Linked DNA regions of Homo sapiens: region 2 is linked to region 1. The links come from fine-mapping of genetic effects on gene expression. Tissue or cell type: whole blood. Region 1 holds a variant in brackets; the other region holds the start of a gene. All regions are shown on one strand. Distances are from middle to middle.

Evidence for each region. PIP is the estimated chance that this variant, and not a neighbour inherited with it, causes the effect.
Region 2: SLC43A2 starts here. The variant in region 1 is fine-mapped to the expression of SLC43A2 in whole blood (TOPMed, PIP above 0.99).

What each region holds. Positions count from the first base shown.
Region 1 is chr17:1,576,127-1,578,874 of GRCh38, forward strand. It overlaps SLC43A2 (solute carrier family 43 member 2), which reads right to left. Exons shown (of 14, transcript NM_152346.3): 12 at 2,124-2,197; 13 at 471-594. Among named protein-coding and RNA genes, the nearest start is that of PITPNA, 15 kb to the left of the region's middle. RefSeq lists enhancers at 1-202, 203-1,014, 1,015-1,826, 1,827-2,637. The variant C/T (reference allele first, on the strand shown) is at 1,267.
Region 2 is chr17:1,627,250-1,629,869 of GRCh38, forward strand. SLC43A2 (solute carrier family 43 member 2) reads right to left here and starts at 1,585. Exons shown (of 14, transcript NM_152346.3): 1 at 1,545-1,585; 2 at 466-671. The coding sequence starts at 625. RefSeq lists enhancers at 1-295, 296-833.

The sequences.
Region 1 (2,748 bases):
AGGCTGGAGTGCAGTGGCGCAATCTCAGCTCACTGCAATCTCCGCCTCCCGGGTTCAAGTGATTCTCCTGTCTCAGCCTCCCGAGTATCTGGGATTACAGGCACCTGCCACCACACCTGGCTAATTTTTGTATTTTTAGTAGAGACCTGGTTTCACCATGTTGGCCAGGCTGGTCTTGAACTCCTGACCTCAAGTGATGCTCCCGCCTCGGCCTCTCAAAGTGCTGGGATTACAGGTGTGAGCCACCGCGCCCGGCCCAGGAACTCTGTTCTATTTCTCCCCAAATCAGGTCCAGAGAGGACATGTTCCTTTTCCTGCCTAGCCACCATTCACAAAGGGACTCTTAACCAATCCTAACCAACGCTCCCACATGTCCTCGGGGCCCTGAAGCCCCCGAGGGGGACCTTGCAGCTCGCAGTTAGCAGAAGGGGGCAGGCGCCCATGACCCACCATCCCCCGACCCCTCTTACCCACAGAGGGTCTCCCTGGAGAGGACCCATCATGGCCAGAAACAGCGGCTGCTGCAGAAGGGCGAAGAGCGCGCTGATCAGAGACTGCAGTCCCGTGAGGCTGCCGAACTGGGTGGAGGGGTACCTGCAGGGCAAGCGACAGCTCACAGCCATCCTGCCTCCTGGGCTTTGCTTGGCCCCAGGTGTCTGGTGACCCCGGGCTGCACCGTTGGTGCCAGAGAAGGGTGGGGTGCCAGCCCTCGGATTCCTTCCTGCTGGGCAGTTCTGTTTTTTTTTTTTTTTTTTTAAGATGGAGTCTTGCACTGTCGCCTGGGCTGGAGTGCAATGACACGATCTCGGCTCACTGCAACCTCCGCCTCCCCAGTCCAAACAATTCTCCTGCCTCAGCCTCCCTAGTAGCTGGGATTACAGGCGCCCGCCACCACATCTGGCTAATTTTTTGTATTTTTAGTAGAGACGGGGTTTCACTACGTTGGCCAGGCTGGTCTCAAACTCCTGACCTTGTGATCTGCCTGCCTCGGCCTCCCAAAGTTCTGGGATTACAGGCGTGAGCCACCGCGCCCGGCCCTGCTGGGTGGTTCTGCAAAGTGTTTCTCTTTGGACCAGCTCCAGGCCCCAGACTCTGGGGAGGGCCCACCCCACTCAGCTGTGCCCAGGGCCTGTGGGTGTCTGGCTGAGCCGAGTGGAAAGCGTGGTGCCAGCGGGGACCTGCGGTTTGGGAAACAGGCCCAGAGAGGAGTGTGGAGGCTGGGCTTGGCTCTGCAGTGCCCTCGTCCAGAGAAGCATTGAGTAATCG[C/T]GGAAACTCAGCACCACAGATCCCGCCCCCCTCCCTCAGACCCTGCCAGGACAGCCACAGCTTCCTCCAGGCCTGGGGAGGGGCAGGCGGAGGGCAAGCGGAGCTGGGATTACCCCAGGGGCTGTTGCGGGAATTGGGAGAGAGTTCCGGGCTAAATCTTAGCACATGTCAGGCTCTGCTGGCCCAGAGGTGGGAAAGGAATCCCAGCAACACATGAGCTGGTCCCACATCAGAGACTGTGGATGATGATGTTTGAGTTTCAGTTTTTGGGTCAAGGCCTGAGCCAGAGAAGAAGGAACCACTGTGGTTCCTTTTATGTTTCTGGGGCTTCTTGGAAAAAGATACAGGTTTCATTTTAGCCAGGGCTGGAGAAAGCTATGGCCAGAGCTGGGCGCACTGAGGCTCTGGATGGGCCCGTCTGGTGTATTCTGGACTCAGTCACCCATGTTGCTGCCCGTGATGAGGGCAACTGGAACTTCCGCATTTAGCTTCAGGCAGCCAGAACCTACCCATCCTTCCCAGTGAGCAGCCAGGGCCAGCCCCAGGACTCGGCTGTAGTGGCCCCTGAGGCCATAATGAGCTGCACAGGTGCCTGACCCTGGCTGGGGGAACTGACTTCGTGTTGAATGCCAAGGCTTGTGAGCACCCAACTGTCTGCCCACTGACCTGCTTCCCACGAGGTATGGCCTTTCCCTGAAACACCCAGCAGAAACCCTGGTACCTGTCCCCTGAAGCAGGAAGATGAGCCCTTCTGGGACAGGCTGACCCTGCCTCAGAGTCTCAGTCCCACCAGCAACCTCCCCCCGGCCATTCCCACACCCTCGCCCACCAGGCCACCTGCGGCTTCCAGGACTTACACGGCAGCGTACAGGCCCCCGACAGCGGAGTGGATGAATCCTCGCACGATTGTGTGCAGGATGAAGGAGAGGATCTGGGGGAGGAAAAGGCGACTGTGGGCATAAGGCCTTAAGGGACCGTCCCCTCAGCCCCCGCCCTCCAATTCCTGGGGGCCCTCACCCCAGGGGCAGTGTCAGCCTGGAGTTGGATCAACCCCATCCTCCGGAGCCAATTGTGAATTTTCAGAAATTTTGCAAGCCAGTCGTTAACACAGTCATTTTTTGTTTGTTTGTTTGTTTTGTTTTTTGTTTTGTTTGAGAAGAAGTCTTGCTTTGTCGCCCAGGCTGGAGTGCAGTGGCGTGATCTTGGCTCACTGCAAGCTTCGCCTCCTGGATTCAAGCAATTCTCCTGCCTCAGCCTTCGGAGTAGCTAGGATTACAGGCCCACGCCACCATGCCCGGCTAATTTTTGTATTTTTTAAGCAGAGATGGGGTTTCACCATGTTGGCCCGGCTGGTCTCAAACTCATGACGTTGTGATCCACCCGCCTCAGCCTCCCAAAATGATGGGATTACAGGCATGAGCCACTGCGCCCAGCCTAACCGAGTCATTATTAAAAATTAAATTATAGGCTGGGCAAGGTGGC
Region 2 (2,620 bases), 51 kb after region 1:
CTAGATTCTAGATGAGCCCTCCCTGGGGTGGAGGCAAGGCCACTTCCTCTCCTGCTGCACCCCAGCCCCTTAATCTGGAGTTCCTCTTTCTCACAAGCAGACAGCAACATGTTTACTACCAGCCAAGCTATGTTCCAGGGCTGGGAGGAGAGGAGAGCAGTCCAGCACTGTTCGTAGCGGGTGGAAGGAACACCCTGGACAGCAGGTGGGGTTCTGGGTGGATGGCAGGCCCAGGCTCTGCGGCCTTGCGCAAGACAGATCGCTCTGAGCCTCGATGTCTTCGTCCACAAAACAGGGGCAATGACAAGTACCCGGCAGGGCTGGGTGAGGATCAGATGGGCCTTCTGATACCCTAGAGGCACTGGGCAATGCGGTGCTGTGGCTCGCTAGGTCTTCGCCCCCATCCCGCCCCCTCCCAAAGCCCCAGCTCCAGGAGCCCCCCGCAACCCCAGGCGCTTGTCTCACCTGGCTCGGTACACAGGTAGGAGTAAAAGCCCTCTGACTTGAGCATGATGAGCAGCGAGCCCCAGCCCAGGAGGACTGCCGAGAAGAGGAGGTTCTCCAGCACGGCCGTGCAGGCCATCCACCAGCGGCGCCGATGGGCAGTGGCCAGGGTGGGCGCCATGGTGCGGCGCGGCGCGGCTCCGGCTCCGGCTCCGGCTCTGCACCACCTGCGCACAGAACTCGGCGTCAGCGGCCGGCCCTTGCCCAGCCCCTGCGGCCGCCCCCAGCAGCCCCGACCGCTGCCGCAGGGCTCGGGATTGCCACCCCTCCCCGGCCGCGGCGGCCGGTGCGCGCAGCAGAGGAAGCGAACCCCAGCCCTGCCCGGACCTGGGACACCCCGAGCCCGCGGCCGGCTCGTACCGCTGCCCTCCGCTACGACAGAGCCGCCCCGGCCAGGCAGGGAGACGTCTCCCGCAGCTCACTCCGAGGTAAACTGAGGCATGGAGGCAAGAAGGGGCTAACGCATGCTCAGGGCCGTGGAACTAGTCCTGGCCTGCAGCAGGACTGACATCGCCTGGGGCCAGCATGGAACGCAGCGTGAGGTGGGCAGGGGCAGATCCGAGGGCTGCCTCTCCCAGGGACCCTGACAGGTGCCCTCCCGCCCGCGCCCGAGACCCTTCCCCAGAGCTGGTTTCTTCAACCACAAGATCAGCGCCCAGACCTACGGAACGGCCCGCCCCGGCGCGCTCATTGGCCGGACGGCGCAGGAACTGCCGCGCCATTGGCCGCCGTCTAGGTCGCTAGGCGCTGCGGCCACGCGAACCCAGCGTGGGAGACGAGGAGCCGGTTCAAACCGGTGGCGCGAGCCAGCCGCGCGACCCCCATCTCGGGCGTTCCCCCGGCAACTCGCCCGTTTCCATGGCCTCGGACCCCCGCGCCTCCATTCCCCAGCCCGCATCTGTTCGTCATCTCTTCCCTGGCGGCCCCTCATCGCTCCATCTCTCTCCTCGTTCCCACGTTTTCTCCCTACGCCCCTTCGGCGGCCGCTTCTGCCCCCGCGCCCTCGCCCCGGCCGCGATCCCCTCCCTGCTGCAGCTCACCCGGCTCCTCCGGCGTGTGTCGGGCCCGCCCGGCGCCTTTTCTGCCCTCTTTTATTCCAGCCCTTTTATTCCGACCCCAAGAAGAAAACACTGCCGCCCGCTGATTGGCTGAGCGGGGCTGGAAACAGGCGTCGACCAATCAGCAGCCAGCCCCCCGCCCGCCCCGCCGCGAGCAGAAGCCGGTTCCGGCCGGACTCGGAGACAAACAAGAGAGATGGGGGACGGGAGGGGCCTGGGCGCTGCGGGCCGGGCCTCGGCTTTGCAGCCTTCAACCCGAGTCACAGCGCGGCCGGGAATCCCCGGCGACATCGCCCCGCGGCCTCTCCAGCGGCCTGACCCTGCGAGGCTGGGGCTCCGGCTCCGCGTCCCGGCCCCCAGCGGACTCCCCCCAGAAGCCGCCGGGCCACCAGCGCCCCCAGCCGGGCTCTCCCGCGGCCGCCCCGCCGTCCCCAGCTGCCCCCTGCGCGCGGGTCACCACGCCCAGATGCGCCGGCTCCGCACGGTGGTTCCACTCTCGAATCCCCACCCCGCCTCCTCCCCACGCAGCGCCGCCGTCCCCGCCGCCTCGGGCTTTGGGTCCTGGTTCCTCGCTCCCCCGCCCCGGTGGTTCCCGTCCCGGCGTATTCGGGGCCTGGGATCCCGGACCCGGTCCAGCCGTGGCGCCCCCCGCTGATGCACCGACCCCTTCCCCTCTCCCCGGTGGCGTCTGCCCGGTCCCTGGAAGTTGGCCCTTGGAAATCTGCAAGGGGATTTGGGGCTGGTCTGTCCCGTCCTAGGATGGGGTCTCCTGAGCTCCCCCCATCAGACTGACCTTTCTCCGCCCGTGTTCACGCACTGCTCGGTCCTCCGGGGACCCTCCACCCTTGATCGTCATCTGGGTGCTCCCTGCCCGCGCTGGCCACCTTCACCCCGTTCCCCGTCCCTTTCAGGGAAGGTCCCCTCTGCAGGGCGATGCTACGGGCCACGTCCGCCAGCTGGTACAAGCTAGGGAGGGTTCGAGGGGGCTCCGGGTCCCCGTCTGATAAGCCCGGGCTCCGAAAGCTCAGCTCCCCGTCTTCGTCCCCCGGATTCGAGGC